Homo sapiens: one gene and its partners. The protein of the gene in region 3 interacts with the protein of the main gene of each other region in a biochemical or structural test. Each region holds a gene or a part of one and is shown on either strand. Other genes may lie near its edges.

Evidence for each region.
Region 1: the proteins of FRMPD2 (region 3) and ARHGAP6 interact in a test that uses a peptide from one of them, tested with the Homo sapiens proteins (one large-scale study listed by IntAct).
Region 2: the proteins of FRMPD2 (region 3) and KCNJ12 interact in a test that uses a peptide from one of them, tested with the Homo sapiens proteins (one large-scale study listed by IntAct).
Region 4: the proteins of FRMPD2 (region 3) and CLDN10 interact in a test that uses a peptide from one of them, tested with the Homo sapiens proteins (one large-scale study listed by IntAct).
Region 5: the proteins of FRMPD2 (region 3) and MAS1 interact in a test that uses a peptide from one of them, tested with the Homo sapiens proteins (one large-scale study listed by IntAct).
Region 6: the proteins of FRMPD2 (region 3) and ABCC6 interact in a test that uses a peptide from one of them, tested with the Homo sapiens proteins (one large-scale study listed by IntAct).
Region 7: the proteins of FRMPD2 (region 3) and JUP interact in a test that uses a peptide from one of them, tested with the Homo sapiens proteins (one large-scale study listed by IntAct).

Annotation. Positions count from the first base shown.
Region 1 is NC_000023.11:11,176,099-11,180,331, forward strand, and holds part of ARHGAP6 (rho GTPase-activating protein 6), read right to left. Parts: intron 3,355-4,233; coding exon 3,204-3,354; intron 2,151-3,203; coding exon 2,002-2,150; intron 1-2,001.
Region 2 is NC_000017.11:21,417,048-21,420,787, reverse strand, and holds the end of KCNJ12 (ATP-sensitive inward rectifier potassium channel 12), read right to left. Parts: 3' UTR 918-3,740; downstream 1-917. UniProt on the Homo sapiens protein: Inward rectifying potassium channel that probably participates in controlling the resting membrane potential in electrically excitable cells. Probably participates in establishing action potential waveform and excitability of neuronal and muscle tissues.
Region 3 is NC_000010.11:48,267,624-48,271,856, forward strand, and holds part of FRMPD2 (FERM and PDZ domain-containing protein 2), read right to left. Parts: intron 1-4,233.
Region 4 is NC_000013.11:95,558,640-95,562,872, forward strand, and holds part of CLDN10 (claudin-10), read left to right. Parts: intron 1-1,492; coding exon 1,493-1,654; intron 1,655-1,742; coding exon 1,743-1,824; intron 1,825-4,233. UniProt on the Homo sapiens protein: Forms paracellular channels: polymerizes in tight junction strands with cation- and anion-selective channels through the strands, conveying epithelial permeability in a process known as paracellular tight junction permeability.
Region 5 is NC_000006.12:159,889,156-159,894,021, reverse strand, and holds the start of MAS1 (proto-oncogene Mas), read right to left. Parts: upstream 3,035-4,866; 5' UTR 2,889-3,034; exon of another isoform or gene 2,839-2,888; intron 1-2,838. UniProt on the Homo sapiens protein: Receptor for angiotensin 1-7. Acts specifically as a functional antagonist of AGTR1 (angiotensin-2 type 1 receptor), although it up-regulates AGTR1 receptor levels.
Region 6 is NC_000016.10:16,212,956-16,217,188, forward strand, and holds part of ABCC6 (ATP-binding cassette sub-family C member 6), read right to left. Parts: intron 1,495-4,233; coding exon 1,369-1,494; intron 181-1,368; exon of another isoform or gene 1-180.
Region 7 is NC_000017.11:41,758,521-41,762,753, reverse strand, and holds part of JUP (junction plakoglobin), read left to right. Parts: intron 1-3,883; coding exon 3,884-4,039; intron 4,040-4,233. UniProt on the Homo sapiens protein: Common junctional plaque protein. The membrane-associated plaques are architectural elements in an important strategic position to influence the arrangement and function of both the cytoskeleton and the cells within the tissue.

The DNA of each region.
Region 1 (4,233 bases), on a different chromosome or scaffold from region 3:
TATGCCACTCGTACAACCTTAAGTGGAAGCTCTCTGTGGGTTGCTAGGTAAGTTACTTAGCTCCCCTGGCCCTAAGTTTTCACTTCTGAAACATGGAGACAGTGATATCTCTTTTGCCTGTTAAGAGGATTTGCATATATATATATATATATATATATATATATATTTGCATATATTTATATATTTATATGTATTTGCATGCATATATATATATATATATATATATATATATATATATATATATATATATATCTCCCCTAGCACAAAGCCAGCTCATGGAAGGAGAGACATAAATGGTAGCTAATATTCCAGCATGCTGTTTCATTTACACCTGTCCAAGAATATTTTCTTCTTTTTGGCATAGGCAATGGAGACTTGTTCAGCAATTGAATGGAAAGAATGTCTGAAAATGATTCTAAAAGGGCAACAATGAGTTCGATTGGAACTTTTGCTTTCCTCAATGCCTTCCTAATTACCTGAGACCCAATTTTCTCCTTCTCACACAGTACTTAAGAAATGTCAGAGAAGTAACTGGAGTACCTTTAAACACAGAGCTCTGCTTTCCCCCAGCAATTAGGCAGATCATGCTACAGCTTCTGTTATAACTGTAGTTGATAGAGGTTGGCATCCAAATGAGTAATAAAACTACTTAACAATTATGAGAATTATAGTATGCCCATCAAAGAGCTGTGTATGCTGAAATAAGGTGTCAGTGCCACATTATGAAACCTGAAGCCATCTGGGGCTTCACTAATTATAACTGCTATAGAGATAAATGGCTAAGTCAGGAGAGTTCCATTCTCACACCCGTAAGGAGGAGGACGAGAAGAAATGCAGAATTGCCTTTCTGGATTAGAGTGAAAAAAATTATACATAACCACGTTCTTTGGGAAAGAAATTTGACAAACACAGAACTGAAGCTGCAGTGCAGCTGAGCTTTGTTTAACAAGAATTTACAAAAAAGTTTCTGTGGTTAAGTAAGTTTGGAATGCCTCTGGCCCCTTCTTATTGATTTACAGTGCATGTTAGCTTATTAAGGAGTCTAAAACCTCCTGAGGAATCCGAGGTCAGGGAGAGGTATAACTGCATGGTATCAAAGAGGGAAGGGGGTGTCTCTTGTTAAGGTGAAGATTAAATACGTTGCCCATAAGTAAGCAACTTAAAATTCAAGCCAGCATCTCATTTGTCCAAGGGTGAAACAAAAAAAAAAATCTTGAAATATATGAGTGTAACCAAAGAGAACCAGAACCCAAGATCTTAGATTTGGTGGGCGGGGGGGGGGCACACTGGGGCCTGAGTGGGGATCAGATCCAACAAGAACATTTCTAAAGAGTCTGTGGGACTATGTACAACCTGCTTTGAGCAGTTGATACCATGTGACATCAAGACACAATGGCAATGGTCAGCAGATCAGACCCAGTTTCCTCCACACCTGGTTTGGAAGCAGGACTGACCCTCCCTTGCATCGAGCAAGTCCCTGTTTTGGGGGGAGAGTTTAAGAAAGGAAAGGATCCCTTGAAAGGGAGACACTAGACTTCTTGCTCATAGTGCAGATGGGAGCTCCAGGGATAAACTGGAAGAATAAAGAGGTGACATCATATTTGGGCTCCAAGTTATAGAAGCAGGTAAAATCAATTATAAGGATAACAATCTCCTCCCACCCCCATCATTCCACTTTTACATGGTTGCAAGCACTTCTGTAGTTCACTGTTTTTCTTCTTTACAAACGGAAGTTCAGAGTCTTGAGTAAAGCCTCACCATGGAAAATGACAGCCTCATTTGGAAGCATACTTGAAACATATAAGGAGGCTCATGGCCCATGCACTTTTAGGAACTGTGCCTCCAGAGAAGGCCCTGCATTAGTCTCTTCCTACAGAGACAGCTAGGTTGGAGAAGGGGAGACATCATTACCTCCAGGCAAAATGGCCATTTTGGTGGTATGCCCTTTTAAAATAGGGGAGAGGAAGAGTCACGGCATCTATGGCAGCAAAGGCATCTTACCTCTTGCCCATCTTTGCTGATGTTGTCATCGGCATGCCTGGCCACGATGGAGAGGAACTGTAGCAGGCGGTGGAGGGTGTCGCAGTTGCAGGGAGGTAGAAGGTATATGAGGAGCTGCAAGGTGCCCAGCTGTTCCTCCGGCTCCAACACTAAGCAAGGCAAAAAGAGGTACTCAAATAAAAGGGGAGCCCATACTATTCAGGCACAGAGGAAAGGCCTCCTCTCAATTGTCTTAAGAAAGGGATTATCAAGGCAATTCCCATTTCATGCCTTCACTCATTTGCCCATTGCTTTAGCAATTTACCAGCAAGATTCTATGAAAGATATAAAGCCAAATTAGACCTCGAGAAGTGTAATACCTAGAAAAATAACTGTAATCCAGGTAAAAAAAAAAAAAAGGTAACTCAATTTCCCTTACTTTCTTCTCCCCCCTTCCCTGGCATTACTCATCACCTAGTTTAAGGATTTCAGTCTTCCATTTTTGGTAAATATTTATTAACAATGGCTGAAAATTGGTGAACATTCTGAAATTTGAGTTTATAATGGATTTAAGGCTCTTTTCTGTTGAGCAATTCACAAGGGACAGATATTTTGTTGGCAATAACCAAGATACAGCAAAGCCAATGTCTTCTCTCTCCGTTGTGATCCTATTTGAATGGCAGCATTGGAGGAAGAAATGTATGGAGGTTGACCCAGGTTTGGCCTATCTCTCCTCTACCTCCTCCTTTTTTTCTTCTTCATGGGATCTGTAGCTACAGCCCAGAAGCAGCTATGTTGAAAGCCCTGGCACTGGGCTATGGCATCTTGCTTCTCCTGGAATGTTGCTGCCCTCCTTTCTCACTCTGGGTTCTCGTGGTTCCCTCCTTCTTCGTACCAGAAACACAAACTCATTTTTAGGCACAGACTCAATGTGAACTCTTGTTGGTACTCTAAGCACTAACTCATAGTACTTTTTACTGTTCTTGGGTTATTTGAAAGCATCTCAAATTCTTCTTGGCTATTTCCATTTGTTTTATTGTAACTTTCTTCTTGCTAATTATTCCCAGGGTAAATCTGAGAAATTCCCTCAAATAGCTCACTCTTTAGAGATTGATAAATAAGGACAAAAAGTTATCAGGAAACATATGCATAAAGTTATGATGAATGAGTTGGACATCTTAGTATTCCAGGGCCACTTTCCCACATATGGCTGTATTACGCACAGAGAGTGTTGATGAAAGCTGTGTACAGCTCCCTGGTGAGAAGGGGGTCTGGCATGTCCCTCAGGAACTCTTTCAGCAAGGCTGCCACATCATGAACACTGTGCTCCTCCTCCAGAGAGACATCAATCCCACGGTCAAATTCCTCACGTAACTGGAAGAACAATGGTTCGAGTGGCAGTCACATAACACCATACCTCAATGAGCAGTGCCCAGCAGGAGAAGTGCTGTGACACGTAGCATCTGGAATTAAGACTGCACAGACCCCAAGAAGGGGAAGCAAACAACATCCTCACCTTGATCTGCCGAGTTGACACAGTCCAGCTATGAATATGTGTGTGTGTGTGTGTATACATATATATGTATATATATGAGTATACACATGTATATATGTATACATATATACAATATATGTATTGTATATATATGTATTGTATATGTATATACATATATATGTATATGTATACATATATATATATATATATAAGCATTATTAAATAAAACTATCTGTGGATTTATTGTTAATGATGTATGCAGAAGGGCTTGGTAATGACAACCAGGTTAGGAGGAACACCTAAGAGGTAGAAGACAATTTAGGTCAGCTATAAATGTGGGAGGGAGGAATTAATCTATTACACAGCATTTCTGTGTGTCACCAATCCTGCCATGTTTGGATGTTGATATTTTACTGAGTCACTCTATAAGAAAGCAAAGAGATTTTTTTTTTCTGCAAAAATGAAATTAAGAGCCCTGATAACACATTTATGACTAAGACTTAAAAGATGACAATAACTAAATAAAAGCTGTCTTAGATTTGTCAAAGTAGTCTTATTAACAATTACCAGAAGGATTCCCTGCCTTAATCATTATACTAGGTCTATTATCACTTGCAGCAGCAAGAAAACACAGTAGCAAGGGAGTAATAACTCCACACCCTACTTTTATCTCTAGCAGCTCAACTTTTCGTATGCATTGTTCTCTGCTGTAGAAATAATTATGTAACTTCATAAACCTACACTATGCAAAAAACTTC
Region 2 (3,740 bases), on a different chromosome or scaffold from region 3:
CCCCAGTTGGCCTTGATCCTGCTACTGGGGTCCCAGGAGGGCCCCAGAGTCAGAAAGGAGGTCCCCACCAAACCAAGCCACCTCCAGGGTCCCCGGGTCACCCCAAGTCCAACCCAAGGGAGCTCCCACTGGGAAGCCTTCATGACCCCCTAGGCCCTGGCACCCAAGCCCCTGCTCCACATTCTGCCATGCACGGCACCATCACCCAGGAATGACTCAGGCAGGGGATTCTTATCCGGGGTTGTCTGGAATCATCATCGAAATCCTGCAGAAAGAGGGTGCCCTGAGTCCTTTGCTGATGCAGAGGAGTGGAGAACTCTCCACTCACATAGTTTGGGAAGGGAAGGAATTCTCTCCCCACAAGTCCCTGCTGAAGACCTTGGAGATCTGGGGCTGAGCCTCAAGGTACAGATGAAAGTCTAGTTTCCCAAAACTGGGCCGTGTGTGTTCCCTCACCCCACTCCAGGCTTGTCTCGTCACCTCAGTGGAGACATTGGCACGCTCTGAAACTCCTCCTCAGCCCCTGCCTGCTACAAGCTGGAGCAGGGCTTCCCCTCCTGGGAAAGGAGTTGCCTGTCTCAGGTCAGCCTCCCCCAGCTGGGGAGGGCGCTGCTGCAACAGCAGGCACCCAGCACATCCTTGCAGAAGGAAGGGAAGGCAGGAGGCTCGGCCCTGCCGCCTGGGATGGGTGACATCATGGGACAAGCCCTGTGTGCTTGCTGGAGACCACTGGGAGCTGCAAGGAGGCTGAGTTCTGTTCCATCTCCCAACAGCTGCCACCATGCCCCACCCTCACCCATGAGGAAGCCCCAGGAAACCCCCACCCAAGGCGGAGGCTGAGGAAGCCGGGCGGACGCCCAGCACGCTGTGGAGCCATGCAGGGGAACTTCAGAAAACACATCTCAACACAGGGGACCTCAAAGAGATCAAAATGCATTTAATGTGGTCTAGTCTCATCGCCTACGTCTTTAGATACTGCTATGTATTGAAAATAACATGAAAACTCTCCAGTTTCACCATTTAAAATAATTTGACATTCTATGCCCTCACGCAGGGCAGACACCCCGTACAGGGGCCTCCCAACGGTGGCTCCTCCCCGCCCCCCAGGACCCTCTGGGTGGGGACCACGCAGCACAGCACCAGCAGAGGCTCAGGGGGTGGCCACCGTGCTCTGAGCAGCAGGCATAGGCTGCACACAGACACACACTCAAGTACACGGTTTCACATGGGCACACACACAGCCTCCTACACACGAGCCGGACGCACACGCTCACCTCCAGATGTCTCATCCTGGAACACAAGCTCCACTCAGGAGCAGACGTGCATAATCAGGGCAGAGGGTCGGGGACTGTGGGGTTCACCTGTGCCAGTGCCCAACCTGATGGGTGGGTGCCCTCCCTCACAGGAAACTTGTACACGGAAACACCTGGGGGTAGACAGACACATAACCGCCTGCATACACACACACACACACACACACACACACACACACGTATAGATCACGTATCTGTATTACTAACCCAGTCATACACATGAAGAGCCGAGTGTGCATGTGTGCACCACACATGTATGCATGCAGGCTCACACAGGCACACGCCTCCACACACACACTCCCCAGGGGCCAAGTCTTCCTCGCTCCTGGCTCATCCCATCCGCCCTCCCGCTTCAAGTGCACTAAAGAGGGAGACTATTTTGGTCTTTAGCACAAGCAATAAATAAATAAATAAATACGAGGGAAGGAAGAAAGAGGGCAGGAGAATCAAGCATCTGCCGCCTTTGGGGAGATGAGGCGCTGGGGCTGCTCTCCCGCAGGGTGGGGGCTGGGAGGTAAGAGCACAGACCTCCAAGAGGGCCAGGAGGTGGGCCTGGGGTCCTCGGACTCAGCTCTGGGTCGGGGGAGTAGAAGGCTGTCTCACTGGCCCTGGAAGGGCACAGGCCCCTACACCAGCACCAAGTGACCAGGGTCACCACTGTCCCTCAGCATGGCCATCAGGGAGGCGAAGTGTCAAGCTCTCCCCTGCCAACTTCACCCCAGTACCCAGGGCTAAGGCTGAGAAGGCCCCTAAGGCTTCGGGGCTAGGCCTGGGAGCAGGAACCAGCTGAGGCACCCCTGGCAGACCCCGAGAGGAAAGAGCTGCCTCGGCGGAATCTTCTATGCCAGAAATGAGTGTGGGGCTGAAGCTGGGACAGGATGCTGAGTCGGGCCTACCCCAGGATGTAGGGGTCGGGTGTCTTGACTTCCATTGCCCCAGACCTCAGGGCTGAGTCTTCAGCTGCTAAGGAGGGGAGGAGGTGGAGGGAAGAGGCAGACACCCCCACCCCACGCCCCCAGCCCCTCTCTGTCTCCTGCACCCCACCCACTCACTGCATGACCCCCTCTGCTCTCTGCCTCAGCTTCCCCACTTGGGCCAGAGTCCTCGGTGCCTTCTGGCTCTGAGCTGTCTCGGGGTGCCTTCTGGCTCTGAGCTGTCTCGGGGTGCCTTCTGGCTCTGAGCTGTCTCGGGGGCAGAGTTGGAGCAGGAGACACATCCTTTCTGATTACTGGCTTCTGGAGAAGCCCGACTAGAAGAGAGCAGGTTTTCTCCGCAGCCCTGGGAAGGGCCTGGCTCTACCATGGACCTGACCCAACCAGCTGCCATGAACAAGATGGGGTGGCAGAGCCAGCAGTGACAACAAGGGGACCCCAAACCTCTTCCTGATGAGGGTGCCATAGTGCCTCAACCTGGGGGAGGGTGGTGGAGGAGCGGCCCTGGAAGACTCGGCAGGAATTCTGTTCCACGGCTGGTTTCTGATTCAGCTTTGAATGAGCGTGGCCCTCCCCAGTCATCCCAGTTGGCAGGAGGGGGTGGCGATTCCTCTCCTTTCCTAAGATCTTTCCTCTGCCATTCAGCGCTGACCAGGGCCTGGCTGTGCCCTGCCTGAACTCTGCTGTGCTGCTCCAGGTGAGGGAGGGACAGGATGTGGTCCTATGTCAGGCAGACCTGGCCCCTGCCACCTTCACAAGGCAGACAGAGGGGCTGGAGGAACTTCAGCAGTGGAGGTATGGGAGGGGTGGGGTGGGACAGGGTTGGGGGGAGATGAGCAAGCCCAGAAAGAACAGGACAACCCGGAGTCTCTAAGGCACGACTCACACTGTGGGCCCAGTGGGGACGGGGCTGCCAGCTTCCTCCTAGCCTGGGATCCCGACTTCCCTTCCCAAGGAGCCATCCCGGCCTATAGCTCCTAACCACCCCTCACTGTGGAATTGGGCGGAGGCCTGGACAGAAATGGAGAGAGAAGCAAAACAGGAAAATCGAGGGTGCGGGGAGGAACCCTCGATGGCAGGTCCCATGCCTGGCCCTGAGACACATCTCTAAGGTACAAAGGCAAACTCTAAAAGCTCAAACCAGTTTCTTCCCAGCCCCACCCACCACCCCAACGACAGTAGAAAGCTTTTATTACGATCATTAACATGGTCTTGATTTTTCTATCACAAACAGAGCCTAGCTGGCTCGTGAGCTCGATGAAGTGCGGTCCCAGAGCACCCTGCTTGCCCAGGGACTGTGGTGCCCACACACACGGGGAGAGGCCAGTCCCACCTCGGGGAACCCTCTGGAGCCTTCAGCCAGCTGCTGCATCCTGGCAGACCCATGGAATTCTAATTGTTCTTTTTGCCCCCTGTGAATTAAAAAAAAATTTTTTCAATTGCATGGTAATTTTTTTTTTTTGTAAACAGTCTCACCCAAGCTAAGGTCAAGAAA
Region 3 (4,233 bases):
CAAAAACACCAACAATCCAATTTCAAAATGGGCAAAGGACTCAAATAGATATTTCTACAAATAATATATGTGAATGTTCATAGCAACATTATTTATAACCAAAAAGTGGAAACAACTCAGTGTCGATCAAGGGATGAATGGATAAACACAATGTGGTCCATCCATACAATGGAACATTACTCAACCATAAAAAGAAATCAAGTACTGATACATTCTACAGCATGCATGAACCTTGAACACGTTATGCTAAAGTGAAAGAAGCCAGATGTAAAAGCCTACACATTGTGTAATTCCATTTATATGAAATATCCAGAATAAACAAATCCATAGAGGCAGAAAGTAGGTTTAGGTGCCATGCTTAATATGGAGTACTCACATGTAGGATGTCTACAAAGAAGTTTCAAAACTTAACAGCAGAAAGCAAACAATCCAATTAGAAAAATGAGCAAATGGCATGGAAAGACATTTCACTGAAGATACACACATCGCAGATAAGCACATGACAAGATGTTCAACATCACTGGCCATAAGGGGAAGGCAAATGAAGTCTATAATGAGATATCCCTCCCCACCTATATGACAGGAAAAAAAAATAAAGTGACAATACCAAATGCTTATGAGGATACAGAGAAACTGGATCTCTTCTAAGTTGATGGTGGGAATGTAAGTGGTACAGCCACTTCAGAAAAGAGTTTGTCAGTTTCTTTTTAAAAAAGAGAAAAACTAAACATACTCTTACTATACAACTGAGCAATTGTGCTTCTGTGCACTTATCCCAGAGGAAAAAAAATGAATATCCACACACAAAGCTGCATGTGAACGTGTGTGTTTTATTTGTAATAGCAGCTTTATTTGTGATAGCCAAAAACTGTTAAGTCAAAATGTCTTTCATTTGGTGAATGGTTAAACAAATTGTGGTATATTCATACCATGGAATACTACTCAGCAATAAAGAGCAAACTATTGATACGTGCAACAGCTTGATTAGATCTCAAGGGCATTAGGCTGAATGAGAAAAACCAGTCTCAAAAGGTCACAGCTTGTGAGACTGATCTCAGAGATAGTAGAAGCAGGGTGGTAGGGAGTAGAATGGGAGCTGGGGGAGATCTTTGTGGCGATAGAATAGTTTTGTATCTTGATTGTGGTAGTGGTTACATAAATCTACACAAGTATTACAATGGCATAGTACTTTACACACATATTGTACCAATGTCAAATGTCTGGGTTTGCCATTGTGCTGTAGTTAGGTAAGATATAATCACTGGGGGACACTGGAGGAAGAGTATAGGGACTTCTCTGTGCTCTTTGCAACTTCTTTGCAACTTTTTATCTGACCATATATGAAAATTAAATGTAAACAAAAATATGCAACAGATTAGGAGAAAATATATATAATGGCAAAAGGGTTACTATTTACTCATCAATTAGAAAAAAACAACTCTTTAATTTAAAAGTTAAGAAATAAACAGGTGAAAAAATACAACTACTCAATAAATATTTGAAAAGATTTGCTGTGTTTCTAGTAAATCAGGGAAAACAAAACAGCAATGAGAATTTATCAAGAGGGTCAAAAATTTAAATATTTGATGTTAGCAAGGTGGGGGCTGCAGACCAGGCCCTCTCATAACACCCATTAACATGGGAATTAAATTGGTATAGATTTTTCAGAGCCATCTATCAAAATTGAGAACATGTATTTGCCAAGTCCCAGCAATGCCAATTCTCTGCCTCCTAGGGAACATTTCTAAGCATATAGGAAATAGGATGCACAGAGGCGTGTTGCATGTGGATGTTGCTGGTGGGGCAGGTGGTACCTAGTACAAGGGTGGCCAGCGTCACTGAAATGCAGCCTTCAGAGGGATGCAGAAGCTGAACAGGCCTGAGAGTTCCCCCTTCACGGAGAGCATAGCCTTCTCTCCTCCTGCAGTGATGATTGAGGGATAAACCTCTGGCTGATGGGACTCAGGCAGGGCCAGGCCGTCCGTGGGTTCCCAGCCTAATGCAGGTTGAGAAGTGGCTTGCCCTGTCACAAACCCCACTGGGTGAATGCTTTGTTTAAAAATTTTCCTCTAGAAGTGAAGCAGCTTCATTCAGTCAAATTAATCCATCCAGAGCAGACCATTAAAAATACTGGTTAGTGAAGAGGGGGTCCTTAACTCACACTTGACAGACCCAGGAGACCTGCTGTAGCACAGATGGGAAATGGGAGACAGCCAAGGTGTGAGGGTGAAGGCTTGTCCAGAATCCCACTCCGAGTGGTTTCAGGGAGAGGACTCTGGTCTCAAGCTCTTCTCCTGGGCTTTATTTACCACATACCCCTCCTCAGGCCCTGAGTCAGGAAGTTGCTTCCCACAGTGATATCTACAAAGAGCTATACAGCCAGCTGGGATAAGGGATGAAGGTCAAACCGAAAGTGACTATTTCTGTGCAAAGAATCAGAGAGAAAAATCTTATGGGCCCAACAGCAGTAGGTAATTGAGAAAGTGAGACTAAGAAAAGTCATAAAAGAAACGGTGATTCCTTATTAAACAATATGGAAAAACTGTCCACTCCTGCCTATAATCCAAGGAGCTGCTAGTGGACGTGGTCTCGAGGCCCATTTTCATCCCTCAAGTGGGCTTCGATGATGAGCGCTCAGTGCCCATGAGGTGGCAATGACACTGTTCCTCTCAGAGACCTTACTTATGTGTGGCCAATTTGCGACAGCTGATTTGTAAAGCAGTTTGGCAATCTGTATCAAAAGCCAAGGGATGTCCATTCCTGCCATCAGGGTCTTCCTCTTCTGGGAATTGATGCCAAGAACATAATTGACAAAGATGTATATTCAAAGATATTTGCCATGGTATTATTTGTAACAATGAATAAAGGCAATGCCAAATGTCAGTGGTCTTTGGGTTTCTCTCTGCCCTGGCTCCCTCTTCAAATCACTCTACATGCTCCAAAGTTACCAACCATCAGTCCATCCCCTCCACAGCCATGTCTTAAGCTCAGACCCGTTTCTTGAGCTCCTGCTTGGTGATCCCAGGATGTCCTTTAGACAACCCCCTTAGATGTAGAGAGCTGAATTCACCTTCCCCCCACCTCCTCCTCTTTCAACCTCTCTTATTTGAATACAGCAAATGGCATTCCCACCACCTAACCCCTCAAGCCAAACATTCAGACGACATTTTTGTCTCCTTCCCATCCCTCAACTTCCCAGCCCGTTAATCACCATCTCCAAAATCTCTCTAAAATCCGCCTGTTTCTCTCCAACCCCACCACCACTGACCTGGTCTAAGCCACCAGCACCCTCCCCTGAATGACCACTGAAATGTAAATTCTACAAAATGGTTTCCTACAACCATACCTTGCCCCTGCCCTGATCCATTCTCTGTCTTGCAGAGTCCTCTTCCTAAAACACAAATCTGACCATGTCACACCTCGTGAAAACTTTCAGCCACTTTCTATTCTCCAAAGGATCAGCTCAGATCCTGAGCAAGATTTGCAGGACCTCAGGCCCACCGCTTTGGACTGATCTCTAGCAGCTTCCTCTTTCCCCCATGGCCTTTTTCCAGCCTTAGACGCACCACAACCCCCTTGCCTCCTGTCCTTCTGCAGGCTCTGTGGGGACACTCGCATCTGGAGCTCCTTCTTCCCCCACTGGCTGAATGACTCAGTAAATTAACAAGTGAATACTTCAGATGCTGCCTGCACTCTGGACTGGCATCATACAAAAATGATACTGATAGAAGAAACAAAAGAAATTCCTAGATGGCACTTTTTTAAAATGTCTAATACATTTACTCTCCAGCCAGACACTGTTTAACCCATCTTGAATCTATTGAAGAGTGAGTTCTGACAGCTCAGCCTTGATCTGCCTCCTGCCTGGCACCAGCCCTCCTGGAACTGGTTCCTGTGCACCATCCTACACATCTCCTTCCTGCCTCCCTTCACTACCTACTCTATTTCCAACAATGTTGGGCTATGATAGCTCAAGCAAATACAGGAATAAGGAGGCTTACAGCCAAGGCAAGAAAAAAAAAGGGAGGGCAGTTAACAGTAGAGCTGCCAGCGACCAGTAAAAGGAAGCCTGAGGAATAGGAATCAGCCTCGAAAGCAGACTTCTGCCAGGAAAGCAGCTAAAAACACTGATATCTCAGGGTGAATACAATTCAGGAGGGGAATGAGAATAGAAAAGCATAGTGGCTGGAAGAGCAGGCTCCGAGGTCAGAGCTGGATTGATCCCACCTCACC
Region 4 (4,233 bases), on a different chromosome or scaffold from region 3:
CTGGGGCCAGGTGCAGTGGCTCATGCCTTTAAGCCCAGCATTTTGGGAGGCCAAGGCAAGAGGATCGCTTGAGGCCAGGAATTCGAGACTAATCTGGGCATTACAGCGAGACACTGTCTCTATAAAAATTTAAAAATTAGCCATAGGTGGGGGCAAGCGCCTATGGTTTCAGCTACTCAGAAGGCTAAGGCAGGAGGATCTCTTGAACCCAGGAATTTGAGGCTGCAGTGAGCTATGATTATGCCACTTCCCTCCAGCCTGGGTGGCAAAAGTGAGATCCTGTGTTAAAAAAAGAAAAGAAAAAAAGAAACTGAACTGGAGGCCACTAGTATGTACTCCCTAAATTCATGATTATCATGGTCTCGGAATTATTATTTATCATGGCTCTGCTTGAACACCAATAATAAATGACTTATCATATATTGACACATAAGAGGTTTTTTCCAGTTAAAAAGTTTAATTCCAAACGTAAACCTGATGTAGGTATATATGTTTATTTGCTTAGCAGATACTTACTTACACCCGGTATGTGCTACTATCACTATTTTAGATCGAAATATGGCATTGTTTCAGGCTGAAATGAAAATGGCTTATGTGGTAAAAGCTTATTAGTTTAAACCCTGTTAATGTAAAAACCTGGACAAAAGCCACACTGAAGTTTACCGTGTACCCTGGCTGTGCAAATAAAAATACATGACTAAGAACATGAATAGCACAGGAAGGATGAACAAACGAACTGACAGAACATACTCGTTAGGGTACTTTAAAGGCATTCATTTATAAAAGAACAGTTGACTTAATCACTATAAATTACTCTTCTACAAAATAGTGCTTTTTAAAACCCAGTTTTATTATATACACCCTGAAAACAATAGTACTTCACTAAAGTATTCCCTTAGACCCCCCATGGTTCATGATGATATTCCAGTTAGTCTGCTATTAATAAGCGTCCACTAATATTGGAAGGTTTGACCCTTTGGATCTCTTTCTGCCACCCAGTTATAAATCTTATCATTTGATAATGTCAAAACCATTAAAACACCCTTTTAAAGTCCAATGAGCGGAGGAGCTACAGAGTTGTGATGGTGGCAGATGATGTTTTTTCACAGTGAAAGGCACCTTTCACTGTGGAATTTCACTATATGGAATTCGTAGTCTGATTTGGGATGGAATCCATGTCTGCCACTTTCTAACTCACCTCTGGTAAGTCACATAACCTTTGTGTGCCTCAGTTTCCTCACTGGTGAATATGGAAATAACACTCAGATCTATCCTGAGGATTCCCCATAAACCGCACTTCACAGTGTGTGACCTAGAATAGGCACTCCCTGTAGATTAACTTGCTTTCCTTTCTTGCTTGTCTTGCCACATGTTTTCACCATCACAGTTATCTTTTTGGAAAACAAACATCCAGAATGACAACGTAAAATGAGGATTTCTCCCTGGACAGCCACATGCTTTATGTAACGTAAATGACCTACTCTAATTGCAGGTTATATACAGGCATGTAGAGGACTTATGATCGCTGCTGTCAGCCTGGGCTTCTTTGGTTCCATATTTGCGCTCTTTGGAATGAAGTGTACCAAAGTCGGAGGCTCCGATAAAGCCAAAGCTAAAATTGCTTGTTTGGCTGGGATTGTATTCATACTGTCAGGTAAATAGTAACTTTCTTCCAAACAAGGTACTTGATGATGTTAATGAAATCACACTAACCATAGTGCTTTCCCTCTAATATTTGTTAGGGCTGTGCTCAATGACTGGATGTTCCCTATATGCAAACAAAATCACAACGGAATTCTTTGATCCTCTCTTTGTTGAGCAAAAGTAAGTACTCTTCTCAGTCTGTTTCCAGCTCACAGGAAGTGTATATAAATTAATATTCTCAACCAAGAGACATGAATTTCCTATATGACTTTTGAAAGTAAGACATACTGATAAATGGTAACTGATGACATCATTCAAGATTAAATGTGTCATATGCCACATACGCAAAATATGCATTTAATTAGTTTGCTAGTGTTGCAGTGTCTTGTCTCGAAACAGTTCAAGGCATCAAATTTAGAACTATAAACTTCATCGTTTGCTGTACATCATGAAACTGAGGTCAAGTAGAGGAAACGTGAAAGGTGTCAGACGGAGAGGAAAGAATGATGCGGTGTGCGAATAGAAAATTAAAACCTTGCCTTGATTGTTGCCCACTCAAAATGATATTTGCCAGATGCTAGTTTCTGGGTCTTTTAAATTTGCTGTATTAACTACTGTCTTAACAAGCTCCTCCTAATAAACCTTTATAAAGAAACTGTATACGATGCAAGGTTTTTGAAAAATGCTGTAGGAGCACGGCACCTTTACCCAAATGTGGCTGGTCAGTCTTGCAGATGAATGCTTTGGAATTAACAGATCAGTTTGCTTGTTGGTGTTGTTTTTAAACTATGGGCTGTTGCTTTTTATAGTTTCCCTAGGCTTATTTCTTTGGATTGGGAAAACCCCAGGGATACCAAATCAGAATTAATATATTAAATATTTTGTCTTACCTAAGAATGTATCTACATCCCTCTTTAGGAAGCCTCACGTACGTGTGTGTGTATTGCTATCAATGAGGCTGGTAATTTTATTTTAGACTTCAGGTCAAATTTTATAGAATTTTTAAGAAGTATATTACTGAAATAGCTGGTCAGCTGGGCTTTACTTTTTTTCTGGTGGTTTTAGGAATCTTCAGGAAATTGATTTTCTAGTTCTGGCTTAAGTGTACCTTACGCATAAACAGTAAATGCTTATATCATGAAATAAAATGAAAATAATAGCTAGCGCATGTTGAGTCCCCACCAGGAGCCAAGCAGAGCACTGCAAATATTATTTTATTGTGTTATTTTATTTTATTCTTACAAACAACCTTATAAAGTAGGTCCTCTTGGTACTCTTTTTTTAAATTGAGGAAAGAGGCCAAGTGATGTGTTCAAGGGAACTTGGACCAAACTAGTAGGCTGATTGAACTGGGATTCAAACCAGGCAGTTGAACTTCAGAACACTGGCTCTTAAAAAGCATGATTTCTAATATTCCACTATTTTGTAATTTTTGTGACAATATGCTACATGTACTGTTCATCAAGAGGTTTCTTTCGTCCTTTTTTTTTTTTTTTTTAAGAGTTAGGGCCTCTTTCTGTCACTCAGGCTGGAGTGTGGTGGTGTGATCTTAGTTGACTGCAGCCTTGCGCTTCTGCACTCAAGTGATCCTCCCACCTCAGCCCCCCGAGTAGCTGGGACATATATGTGCCACCACAACCAGATAATTTTTTTTTTTTTTTTGAGATGGAGTTTTCGCTCTTGTTGCCCAAGCTGGAGTGCAGTGGTGCGATCTCGACTCACTGCAACCTCCATCTCCCAGGGTCAAGTGATTCTCTTGCCTCAGCCTCCTTAGTAGCTGGGATTACAGGCACGCACCACCATGCCCAGCTAATTTTTTTGTATTTTTAGTAGGGACAGGGCTTCACCATTTTGGCCAGGCTGGTCTCGAACTCCTGACCTCAGGTGATCCACCCGCCTCAGCCTCCCGAAGTGCTGGGATTACAGGTGTGAGCCACTGCGCCCGGCCCCGGATAATTTTTACATTTTTTAACGGAGACAGGTCTTGCTATGTTGCCCAGAGTTGTCTCCAGCTCCTGATCTTCAATGATCCTCCTCCCTCAGCCTCCCAAAGCACTGGGATTACAGGCATAAGCCACCATGCCCAGCCTTTTCTATACATTTAAAAATAGTTTTTATTCAGAAATGTTATTAAATGGGAAAGAAAAACAAATTTTATTAAATGGGTTTTAGACCTCAATATAACTTTTTTATCCCCTGCCTATAATACAAAAACATGTCCTAATTTATTAATTTTCTCCTACTTATCTTTCAAATGAGATTTGCACAGATGTACATGGCAGGAAACATTGAAATAAAAACCAAGGCTGTATTTCTGAAGCTTAGAAATATTTTAATGATATTTAAAAGAAATATTGTATTTAAATGATACATTTTTATTTTAGGGTTTGATATCATAAATATGCAGCAAACCTGTACTTCTCATGGTTTATTTTATTAAACACATTTCTCACTCTTCCGCATTATCTTTTCTATATTACTGGTTTTATTTTCCTGACAATTATTAAGGATATCTTTGTCTATATCTTAAAAATCATTGGACTCTTTCCTCAAATGGTCAAGGCTAATTTGTGTACAAACAATAACTTA
Region 5 (4,866 bases), on a different chromosome or scaffold from region 3:
GAGCAGTCTCAGTGGGCCAAAACAGCAATCCAACCTTCCCCGCTGGTCCACACTTCCTCCAATATGCCTAATAGCCTTCCAACACAAAAAACTGGACACTTTACCATAATCTTGTATGTCCCCTGCCCTAGTGCCTAGAATCAGCCATTTCTCCAAGGAGCCCTGGTTCCTTTCAGTAAATAATTATATTTAGAAGCCAAGATCTGGGTGTAAAATGTGCTCATTGCATGGAGGCTGTCGCTGCTCCCAGCCCCTCTCAGTGGCAGGGCTAAGGAATATATGTACATAGATAACATTTATGTATAGTCATACATACACACACCTATGGCTGTATTTCTATGTCTTTTTATATCTTTATAAAATATATACATATAATCATAAATTGACACCAATATCTCCAGTTTTGACCCACCACCAGTGAATTCATTTGAGTTTTCTCCCTCTCCATATTTGTAACTCCCTTCTCTGAGAAACCTGGCTCCCTTGGCCCTCTATGCATTTACTCATTTGATCAACCCACCTATGAATGGTTGCCTATGTCTGCCACTGCTCTTCCCCTGCCCCTGCACAGATGCCCTCCTCACTTTGTTGGGCCCTTTTACTTCCTGTTGGACCAGTGCTCCCCCTGCCCCCTACCCTGAGACACAGACCTCACACTGCAGGAGCTCCAACACCCAGCACCAGTTCCCTGTACCCCCCATGCAGATATCCTGCCCTGCCCAGCACTGACATCCCCTGCCATGTCACCACTGCCACTGCCCTCACCCCGGCGTGGCTGCCCCCATGGGGATGATCCTTGCCTATTCAGGCTCCAGCACCTCACACAAGACACCATAAGCCAGGGTGACCATGGTGGAAAGTAGGACTTAACACCCACCACCTTCCTGCAAAACTCAAAGAATTGTGGGCAGTATCGCATCTGAATGCAGAAGAGACTTTTGAGAAGAGGGGTTTTGACATTGATCAAAGTACAGTGCAGAGGCCACAGCCTATTCTGCTTGTGCCTACGGCTGCTTGGCCTGGGAGCTGCACTTTCAGTCAAACTGACCATGAGAGGCAAGTCCTCCATCAAGCAGATTAACCCCACTGGGTCTCAACTGCTTCACATGCTGGCATTTTAATGTAGTTTGAAAGGCTGGGGTATAAGAAATGCTAGAGATTGAACAGCACTTTGCCAATATGAGTCTCATGGAAATGCCAAACTGAGATAATGAATCAACAAGCAGGGAAAACAAGCATGGTGGTTTCCATTGATGTGTAAGGATGTGGGCTTTGCAGAGCCTGTGTCCTGCCAGGTCCACCTGAGATTGCTGGCTGCAATTACCTCTCAATGAAAGTGAGAGGAACAGATGGGTGGTGGAGCTGATAGAAAAAACAAGGAGACTCAGAGTCAGCAGAGAGTTCTAAATGCCATACATTTATGCTGCTCAAGTGTTCTCTAGAGACCTCAGAAGCAAACAACCCCTTCCACATTCCCATTCAGTTGAGCACAGTCCTTCCATGGCCCCAGATACCCAGCCTAGGACATCACTCTTAGAAGAAAGAAAGAGGGGGCTGGGGAGAAAGGCAGGGAGAAAAAAGGAAAGAGAGAAAAGCCAATAAAACTCAGGCTGGGGGAGTGGGCCATCTGAAAGCGCCTGTTGTTCCCAGGCAACTTAAAAGACAGCCTGACCCTAGGCTGGATTTCTAGGTGTGCAGATCCAGAGAAAAGGGCAAATTCTTCCCTGTGTGTGTGTGCAGTCACCTGGACAAACAGAAACCCATTTGTGAGATGGAATTTCCATGGCAGGCAAGGGCTCCGATGGGAATGTACAGGGCAGGACCATCTGTCCTGGTATTAAATGCATCATTCCCGTCTTCCCCACACTAGGGCCATCTGTACGCAGAAGCAGAGACTTCTTGCTCCCTTTCCAAACATACCACAGGATCAATTTAGAGCCCTGGTCTAAAAGGGGGGAAGGTGATTTTGTCCCCTAAGGGATGTTTGGCATGCCTGAAGATATTTTTGGTTGTCACAATGGAGAGGAGTGTGCTACTGGTATCTAGTTGGTAGAGGCCAGAGATGCTGCTAAACATCCTATAATATACAAGACAGCCCACACGGCAAAGAATTACCCAGCCCAAAATGCCAGTAGTGCCGAGGCCGTGGCACTCTGCTAGAGGCCAGCTTCTTACCACCTTTTTACTGCTGCACCCATAGCAATCTAACAACACACTATACATTCTCTCACCAAATTACTCCTAAGTATCCTGGCTGGGAAGTGTTGCTAAGACGCTCATACCAAAGATCAAGACTGGGCAGGAGATTCCTTTTAACAGACATCTTGTCACCAAAGGAATGCATACGGCTTCATAAGCAACAGAAGCTAATACTGATGCCAGTGCCCACTAAGGAAAAATGAAGAAAAATCAATACAGCTTGCCCCTGTGATGCCAAAGAGCTGATAGCCAAGTGATTTCTCCAGAGGAATCAAATTCAGTAACAACTCTTTCAAACCTCAACTTCTTTATCATTCATAAGCTTTCATTAAGCAGCCTTGAAAACCTCCAAGTCCACCATTCAAACTGTGAATTGATCCTAAGATTCTTTCCCCTGCAACGAGTTAAAAAAGAAAACGCTACTGCGAAGTTTCAACCCTGAAGTTGAAAAACAATGTCTGGGAACAGTTAACTCAGCAAAGAAGTAAATTTTCCAAAACAAAGGCAGGAGGAAAGAGAAGTTTTTGCCAACACACACCAACGGCAAACATCTAACACACCGAAAAAAATAAAAGAAAGAAAAACCAGCACAGAAAAGAGTTATCCAAGAAATAGCTTTTTAAAGAGAGAAAATCTTACTCTGGTTGTCAAGGACAGCTAAGCAATGAAAAACTGGGACGCAGACTCACTGGTGTCATTTGCTCAGGAAGGGTCAGACGTGGCCAACAGGTTGGCTGCCCCTTCACATCTGGGGCATCAATGCCCAGCCAGCCTGCAGGGTCTCCGGTCCCAACATCTCGAAGGATGGCTGCAGCCTCTCATCTCTGAAGGAATCAGAGCTGCTCTCCCACTGCTGAAAATATTTGAGATGTGCCAAGCAGATGGTCCCACGCTTATCAGCAGAAGCTTCCAATGGCATCATTCAGTGACACACTCAAGTGAAAATCTTCACGCCAATCCAGAGCGGGGTGTGAGCTGGTGATAATGCAAGGCAGTGGATCACCTTGAACCACTAAGGCCAGCCAGGGCTAAAGAGAAAGATGACGTGGAGAAATGCCACATGGAAGGGCAAAACCGCATGTGTAGTAGAAAGACAGAACCATCTCAAATTCCCAGCTCAGTTTCTAATAAGTTATGTGACCTCTGCCAAGCTCTCTAAGACTTGGTTTTCTCATCTGTAAAATGGAGCTAATAATATTAACTCAAAACCTAGTAATGATGAGATGAGTCTATGTATAGACCCAGAGAGACATACGGGAGACACATGGCTAGATAGTTAAGGATTTGTTCCCTTCTCCAACCCAGTTTCGGAGAGTATCATGCTCAGTGTAGTATATAAGACCCGTAGGATGCTATGAAAAGCAAGCAAGCCAAGGAGTGTGTTCAGGGGTGAAGGCAGGGGTCTGCACCATTGGCCATGCCCAGACTGCGTCCCAGCCTGGTCCGGGGGCTCCTCCTGGGAGTAGCTGTTTCTGTTAGATGCCAACTCTCACCCGTGCAGTCAGGAACATGAGAGCAAATTCCTTTTCCCCGATCCCTGTTCTGCATTTTTTGTGTTTTTGTTGTTGTTGTTGTTTGGTTAGGTTTTTTGTTTTTCTACCTTTTAAAAACCAAAAATGGCCAATATGTTACCCATTTTTCAAATAACTCAATGTGAAGCCCCAAAGGCTGAGAATTCTGGATCTCTTGGATCTCAGGTAGCCAAGTCTGAGATCCCAAGCCTGAAGACCCACCCCTCACTCAGGGTAGCATTTTCTCTTGTTTAAAGGGATTCCTTCATAGATATTGTGCCAAAGTATTAAGAACCTCGGGGACCAACTATATCAAAAGGGGTAAGAAGGCAGTTTCAGACTCTGTGGGAAAGCAGACATAGGAACCCACAGATGAAGTTCCCCTCCGACTGTTTTCGTAAGCAGGAAGACCATAGTCCCAGGGCAGAGCCAAACTACTCTTGTGGGAAGCCTGACCAGCAGCTCGGCCCTCCCAGTGGGAAGAAGAAAGGGGAGAGAAGAGAGCTTCCCCTGAAGCCAGCAGGCATCTACTGGGTAGGCAGTGCTGAGCAGCAAATCAACAGACCAGGTGAACTCGGTCTTGAAGTTGGAAAGGTGTTCTCATTACCTGGTTCTGATGCTCCAAGGAAGGAGAAGTTCAGCCTCCTGAAGAACTTTAGTTTCCCAGAGGATGGTCAGAAACTAAAAAGGAAACAGGCACCATCTAAAGCAGACTGCAAGGCAGAAAAGAAGGAGCACGGGTGGGAAAGGATCAGACCCACGGAAGAAAACATGATTAGGGAAAAATAAGAGGCTGCCCAGGAAGCTTCCAATCCCAGCAGGGGAGGAATTGATCCCGAAGGAAATGAGGGATGAAGGAGATGGGATACGACAGAGGGATCCTCTCTGCTCCACATTCGCTGCTTCTCAGATCAGGGGCTGCCCAGATGTTATGAACATTTCACCCTGTCCCCATGGGTGCTGTGAAACCCTGCGCAGAGTGACCAACTAGAAGGAGGACTCCAACGTCATTATGTAAGTCAACAGAACAGAGGTCCTCACCAATTTGCTTTTTCCAGTGCCTAACAGAAGTCTGTCCACACGGGCAGAGGACAACAAGCTGCCCAATTTGGAAATTGATAATGGTCCCAAGGTGAATGAAGAGCAAGCCGCCAGG
Region 6 (4,233 bases), on a different chromosome or scaffold from region 3:
CGTGAAGGTGCCCATTTCACCACGTTTTTGCCATCACAGCTTATTAATTTTTAAATTTTGTTGCTACTCTGGTAGGTACAAAAAAGATTCCTATGATAGTTTTAACTATTCTCAAGCCTTCGAGCAATTTTTTTTTTTTTTTTTTTGAATACAGGGTCTCGCTCTGTCACCCAGGCTGGAGTGCAATGGTGCAATCATAGCTCACTGCAGCCTTTATCTCTTGGATTCAAGCAATCCTCCTGCTTTAGTCTCCACAGAGCTACTCTGTAGTGGGACTACAGGCATGCACCACCACACTAGGCTATTTTTAAAAACCTTTTTGTAGAGATGGGGTCTCACTACATTGCCTAGTCTGATCTAGAACACCTGGGCACAAACAATCCTCCTTCCTCGGTCTCCCAAAGTGTTGAGATTACAGGCATGATCCACTGCATCTGGCCCCATTTGAACATCTGTTTATATGATGTCAGATCAGTCTCTTCCACAAAAGAATTGTTTCTTGATTTCACAGACTGCTTCACTGTTACCTATTGTAAATCTCTCAATCTCTCATGAGCTTCTTCTATGGAGCACTTACCCCAAGGGTAATTTTCTTTTTCCTTCTTTTTTTTTTTTTTTTTTTTTGGTGGAGTTCCGCTCTTGTTGCCCAGGCTGGAGTGCAAATGCACAGTCTTGGCTCCCTGCAACCTCCACATCCCGGATTCAAGCAATTCTCCTGCCTCAGCCTCCCGAGTAGCTGGGATTACAGGCGTGCACCACCATGCCTGGCTAATTTTTGTAATTTTAGAAGAGATGAGGCTTTACCATGTTGGCCAGGCTGGCTTTGAACTCTCGACCTCAAGTGATCCACCTGCCTTGGCCTCCCAAAGTGTTGGGATTACAGGCATGAGCCACTGTGACCATCCAATTTTCAACATATTTGTTTAATTTTGTGACCAGTGTCTGGTTCCCCTGCTTGACCAGTAGCTACGTGAGAACAGAAACTCTATCTGCTTGTTCACCATAGATCCTTATGCCCTTGCTAGGGCATAGCGGGGTTTGGCAAACTATGACCAAATCTGGCCCACTGCCTGTTTCTGCAAATAGTGTTATTGCAACACAGCCATGCAATTTGTTGACATATTCTGCTTTTGCGTTCAATGGCAGAGTTGAGTAATTGCCACTGAGATCACTGTATGGCTCACAGAGTCCAAAATATTTTCTCTTGGCCCATATAGAAAAAGTCTGCCAACTGTGGCATCGAGTAGAAATGTGGTACACTTTTTGCTGAATGGCTAAATGAATAAAAAAATTAAAGACTTTTGGTCACCTGGGGGAGACTGAGACCTCAAAGTGGAACAGGAATGAGGTTGGAACTTGGTGACTTACAGACTGCTGGGGGTCTTCAGGGAAGAAGGGGGGTTGATCCGCCAGGCAGGACAGCACAAACTGTGCCACCACCAGAGACAGGCATAGGTAGGTGGACAGGTGGCGGACAGGGTCGCTCTGGAAGCCCTGTGGGAGGGAAAGCAGAAGATAAGGAATGGAGACAGAGGAGGGTGCTCAGAGGAGAGAAAAGGTTTCTGATCTTGGGTCAGTGCCCACTCTGGGGACCAGGGCAAGAGTATTTGAAAGCCAGAGCCCTGGCTTTCCTAGTGGTTCTAATTTTCTTTCTTTCTTTTTTTTTTAAGACAAAGTCTCACTTGGTCGCCCAGGCTGAAGTGCAGTGGCATGATCTCGGCTCCCTGCAACCTCTGCCTCCTGGGTTCAAGTGATTCTCCTGCTTCTGCCTCCTTAGTAGTTGGGATTACAGGTGCCCACCACCATGCCTGGCTAACTTTTTTAAAATATTTTTAGTAGAGATGGGGTTTTGCCATGTTGGCCAGGCTGACCTCAAACTGCTGACCTAAAGTGATCTGCCTGCCTTGGCCTCCCAAAGTGTTGGGATTACAGGCATGAGCCACCATGCCCAGCAGGTCCTAATTTTCAAATACCCAATTTATAATATTCTGTCTATACAAATGGTGGGCCAGGGCTGCGTCTGGGTTTTGTCCTTAGCCACATGATGATTGGCCACAGCTGCTGGGACAATGAGATGAAGAAACAATTTACCTTCTTCTTTGTGCCACAAAAGAAATCCTTTCTCCGTTCCACCCTCTACCCCAATCTTCAACCCTGCTCCCCCTTGGCCAGGGTTCTCTGTTTTGCAGAGATGAGAGCTGGTTTTATTGAGCACTGACCCTGCCCTGAGCACATGCGGCATTCTTGCCATACACAGTCTCATCAGCTGGAGTTTACTTGCTTCCTTTGACTCAGGGGGAAACCAAGGCTCAGAGAAGTGACAGCACCTTGTTCAAGGACACGCAGATGATCTGGTCCAAATTGTGATGCTCCTGCTGCCACACCACAATGATTTTTGCATCTGCTGCCCTGTCATCTGGTCAGAAACACCCTAATTTTCTTTCTTTTTTTAATTTAAAGCATTTTTTATTTTTTAATTTTAGGTGTGTGTGTGTGTGTGTGTGTGTGTGTGTGTGTGTATACTTTTTTTTTTTTTGAGACGGAGTCTTGCTTTGTCACCCAGGCTGATGTGCAGTGGCATGATCTTGGCTCACTGCACCCTCCGCCTCCTGGGTTCAAGCGATTCTCCTGCCTTAGCCTCCTGAGTAGCTGGGATTACAGGCATGTGCCACGACCCCTGGCTAATTTTTGTATTTTTAGTAGAGATGGAGTTTTACCATGTAGGCCAGGCTGGTCTTGAACTCCTGACCTCAGGTGATCCGCCTGCCTTGGCCTCCCAAAGTGCTGGGATTACAGGCATGAGCCACCGCGCCCGGCCTGATATATATATTTCTGGATGACGTGAGATATTTTGATACAGGCATGCAATGCATAATAATCACATCAAGGTAAATGAGGTCTCCATCCCCGCAATCATTTATCCTTTCTGTTACAAATGATCCATTCTACTCTTGTAGTTATTTTATTTTTTAGTTTATTATTGAGTTGGAGTCTCACTCTGTTGCCCAGGCTGGAGTGCAGTGGCTTGATTTTGGCTCACTGCAACCTCCGTCTCCTGGATTCAAGTGATTCTCCTGCCTTAGCCTCCTGAGTATCTGAGATTACAGATGTGTGCCAGCACGCCTGGCTACTTTTTTTGTATTTTTAGTAGAGACAGGGTTTCACCATGTTGCCCATGCTGGTCTTGAACTCCTGACCTCAGATGATCCTCCTGCCTTGGCCTCCCAAAGTGCTGGAATTACAGGTGTGAGCCACTGTGTCCAGCCTCTTTTAGTTATTTTAAAATGTACAATTAAATTATTATTGACTATAGTCACCCTGTTGTGCTATCAAATAGATATTATTCTTTCTGTTTTTTTGTACCCATTAACCATCCCCATTTCCCCCACCCACTGTCCTTCCTAGCCTCTAGTAACCTTCCATCTACTCTATATGTTCATGAGTTACATTGTTTTAATTTTTAGCTTTCACAAATAAGTGAGAATATGTAAAGTTTGTCTTTCTGTGCCTGGCTTATTTCACTTAACATCCATGTTGTTGAAAATGACAGTACCTCATTCTTTTTTATGGCTGCATAGTACTTCATTGTGTATATATACCACATTTTCTTTATCAGTTCGTCTGTTGATGGACACTTAGGTTGCTTCCAAATCTTGTTTATTGTGAACAGTGCTGTAATAATCATGGGAGTGCAGAGATCTCTTCCATGTACTGATTTTCTTTCTTCCTAAGTTTTTTGCTTGTGTTCGGGCGTGTGATTTGTGCAGAACTGACTCTACTCCGAGGCTGGGTGGGTGAATGAGGCCTGGCCAACGAATACGTTCTGGTCTTTTGGCTACCATGGCAGGGTTAGGAATGCACATAGCACCCCATGCTGGGTACTTGAGAGCTGGAACCATCGGGAGATTCTGCTGGCTTTGCTACATGCTAGAATGTAAGTGTGAAGGTATTGGTGGCTCTTCTTGCCACTCCATTGGAGAATCAAGCTAACATGGCAGAGCCAAGAGGCAGAAGTGGAGATCTGGTGATGGTACCTGGTCCCAGGCCTGGATCAGTCATGCCTGGGAGATCCCATGGGTATGAGCTAATAAATGCATGAGCTAATGAACCCCCTTGACTTACCCTTTTCATTAAGCTAGTGTGAACTGAGGTTTTATGGCTTTAAACCAGAGCCCTAGTTTTAAATCATGATTCCTCTACTGGATTTTATACTCTTCTAGTTTTGGGTTTTTG
Region 7 (4,233 bases), on a different chromosome or scaffold from region 3:
GTTCAAAATGCACATGAGTACCCTGGGTGGTTTCATTAAATTGCAGGTTCCAGGGCCAGGCACGGTGGCTCATGCCTGTAATCCCAACACTTTGGGAGGCAAAGGTAGGAGGATTGCTTGAGGCCAGGAATTTGAGACCAGCCTGGACAACATAGCAAGACCTGTCTCGACAACAATAACAACAACAGAAATTAGCCAGGTGTGGTGGTGCACGCCTGTGGTCCCAGCTACTGGGGAGGGGAGGCTCAGGTCGGAGGATCGCTTGAGCACAGGAGTTGGAGGTTACAGTGAGCTATGATTGCATCAGTGCACTCCAGCCTGGGTGACAGAGCAAGAACCCGTGTCTTAAAAGAAAAGAAAAACAGGAGGCTGGGTGCAGTGGCTCACATCTGTAGTTCCAGCACTTTGGGAGGTGCAGGCAGAGGCGGAAGCGGAAGGATCACTTGAGGCCAGGAGTTTGAGACCATCGTGGGTAACATAGTGAGACACCCATCTCTTACAAAAAATTTGGAAAAAAAAAAAAGCCCAAACAAATAAACAATCTAAAACACACACACACACACACACACACACACACTCTCTCTCTCTCTCTCTCTCTCTCTCTCTCTCTCTCTCTCTCTCTCTCTCTCTGTCTCTCTGCAGGCCTGCTGCAGAGGGCTTGCCATTCTGTATGTCTTTTTTTTGTTGTTTTGAGACAATGTCTATTGCCCAGGCTGGAGTGCAGTGGTACATTCTTGGCTCACTGCAACCTCTGCTTCCCGGGTTCAAGTGATTCTCCTGCCTTGGCCTCCTGAGTAGTTGGGATTACAGGTGCACGCCACCATGTCTGGATAATTTTTGTATTTTTAGTAGAGATGGGATTTTGCCATGTTGCTCAGACTGATCTTGAACTCCTGAACTCAAGTGATCCACCAGCCTCAGCCTCCCAAAGTACGGGGATTACAGGTGTGAGACACCAGGCCCGGACAATTCTGTATTTCTTCTTTTTTTTTTTTTTTTTGAGACGGAGTTTTGCTCTTATTGCCCAGGCTGGAGTGCAATGGTGCGATCTCGGCTTACTGCAACCTCCGCCTCCCGGGTTCAAGCGATTCTCCTGCATTTTTTAGTAGAGACGGGATTTCTCTATGTTGGTTAGGCTGGTCTTGAACTCCTGACTTCTGGTGATCCACCCACTTTGGCCTTCCAAAGTGCTAGGATTACAGGTGTGAGCCACTGCACCTGGCCCAATTCTGTATTTTTAACAAGCTCGCAGGTGCTGCTCCATGGAGCACATTTCTTATGCCACTGGGTGTAGACGAGAGGGTTGTCCTCACACGAATGAGTGGACTGTATCATCCCCACGGATGTGTTCTAGCCCTGAGAACTGGGGATGGCTAGCGGCCACCAGAAAGTGGCACACATCACTCCTGCTCACACCCCAGAACTTGGTCATTCAGCCACATCAAGGTGCAAGGAGGTTAGGAAGTGTGATCACCAGCCAGATGGCCGTGTGTCCTGCTGAAAATCAGGAGAGCCACTACAGAGACACAGGGCACAGAGGATTCTGGGGACGCTTAGCATCTCCCATAGGGAGTTGGGTGTGTGAAGGAGTGGGGTCTTCTTCTTGAGGCTACCTGGGTGGAAGAGAGCTAGCTGTGTGTCACTTCCCTGTCAGGTGGGGGAAGTGAGAGTGGGTCAGGGTGTGGGCAGACCCAAGGGACAGAGTTATGGGGGAAAGCGTTTGTGTGTGTGTATATCTATATGTAGAGACAAGGAAGGCAGCCAAAGGCAAGGTGGCATCTGGTGCCAGAGAGTGAGGAAGCTACCATCGATGAGGGTCTTGTCAACGGGCACAGGAGCCAGCTGGCAGGGGCATCCGCCAGCTACATTTAAGACAATTTAATAGTACAGACAGGCCAGGCGCAGTGGCTCACGCCTGTAATCCCAGCACTTTGGGAGGACGGGGCGGGAGGATTACCTGAAGTTAGGAGTTCGAGACCAGCCTGGCCAACATAGTAAGTCCCCGCCTCCACAAAAAATACAAAAATTAGCTGGCCATGGTGGCATGTGCCTGTAATCTCAGCTACTCGGAAGGCTGAGGCAGAAGAATTACTTGAACCCGGAAGGCAGAGGTTGCAGTGAGCTGAGATCGCTCATTGCACTCCAGCCTGGGTGACAGAGAGAGACTCCGTCTTGGAAAACAAAAACAAAAAACATGGCCAGGCGTGGTGGCTCACGCCTGTAATCCTAGCACTTTGGGAGGCCGAGGCGTGTGGATCACGAGGTCAGGAGATCGAGACCATCCTGGCTAACACGGTGAAACCCCATCTCTACTAAAAAAATACAAAGAAATTAGCCAGGCGTGGTGGCGGGCGCCTGTGGTCCCAGCTACTCAGGAGGCTGAGGCAGGAGAATGGTGTGAACCCGGGAGGCGGAGCTTGCAGTGAGCTGAGATCGCGCCACTGCACTCCAGCCTGGGCGACAGAGCGAGACTCCGTCTCAAAAAAAACAAACAAAAAAACAAACAAACAAAAAAAACCCAGTGCAGATAAGAATGACTCTAAGTGATTCTACACATTGAATTATTATTTTTTATTATTATTATTATTTTTGAGACAGATTCTTGCTCTGTTGCCCAGGCTGGAGTGCAGTGGCATGATCTCAGCTCACTGCAACCTCCGCCTCCCAGGTTCAAGCAATTCCCGGCTAATTTCTGTATTTTTAGTAGAGACGTGGTTTCACCATGTTGGCCAGGCTGGTCTCGAACTCCTGACCTAAAGTGATCTGCCTGCCTTGGCCTCCCAAAGTGCTAGGATTACAGGCGTGAGCCACTGCGCCCGGCCTATACATTGAATTAAAAAAAGAAAATTCATGTTTAGAAAAAAAAATGTCATTGTGACCCCTCCTTGATGCTTGGTCCCTGCTGCAAACCTGAGGTGGGACTTTGCATCCTAACCCAGCAGCTAAGTGGCAAGTGACTTTGGCAAGTCATTTGCCCTGTGCTCACGTCCCCATCTCACATGATTTTCATCCCTGTCCTCCTGGCGTCTTGTTTTGAGGATGAAATAGATGACACCTTGAGAGGCTCTGGGAGGCCAGAGTGGCTCCTCTGAGTCAAAGACCCTGGGGAGGAGATCTCAGGACACCTCTTTCCAGAGCTGCCCTGCTGGGGATTAATGACAATGTGAGCACCACCCAAGCAGGAGGCTTCGGGGGCACCTAGAGCACAGAATTCCTGAGAATCAGGCTTGGAGGACTATCAGAAAAGCAAGCAAGGTCATGGTGTCTGTGGGGGGTGGTTAAGAAAGAGGGGACAGGGTGAGGGGCCAGGCATGGGGCTGGCAGGATGTTCTGGAATGGGGTGTCATTTTAGCAAGGGCTATTAGAATTAGCCATGAGCAGCCGGACGTGGTAGCCCACACCTGTAATCCCAGCACTTTAGAAGGCAGAAGCAGGCGGATCACCTGAGGTCAGGGGTTCGAGGCCAGCCTGCCCAACATGGCGAAACCCCGTCTCTACTAAAAATACAAAAAATTAGCTGGGCATGGTGGCAGGCACCTGTAATCGCAGCTACTCAGGAGGCTGAGGCAGGAGAATCGCTTGAACCCAGGAGGTGGAGGTTGCAGTGAGGTGAGATTGCACCACTGCACTCCAGCCTGGGTGACAAGAGCGAAACTCTGTCTCAAAAAAAAAAAAAAAAAAGAATTAGCCATGAGCACTCCCAGATCCTGTGGATTAAGTGACATGGCTGGGATGGTCTCCTTCTCTGGATATTTTCCAGTATGTCTGTGTCTGGCCTCGGGGACAGAAGAGGTGAAGGAGGGAAGGGATACTTGAAGCTGGGAAGCTGGGATCCTTCAGATGTCCAAGAAGTGCCCCTGATCACTGCCCCTTTTTTTGCCAGGCAACCATCGGCTTGATCAGGAATCTGGCCCTGTGCCCAGCCAACCATGCCCCGCTGCAGGAGGCAGCGGTCATCCCCCGCCTCGTCCAACTGCTGGTGAAGGCCCACCAGGATGCCCAGCGCCACGTAGCTGCAGGCACACAGCAGCCCTACACGGTATGTGAGCTGGTGGTGCCTCTGACAGCCTTCCTGGGGGGTCAGGGTGTCCTCTGTGGGTGTGTGTGTGAATGGGGAGGTCAGTTGCAACTGATGCCAATTCCAAGAACCTGTGAAGTTCATTCGGCTGTCATGGGGAGGAGTTGTGGCCATGTCCAAGGCACCTGTCCCATGCCCCCTGCCTCCTCTCACAC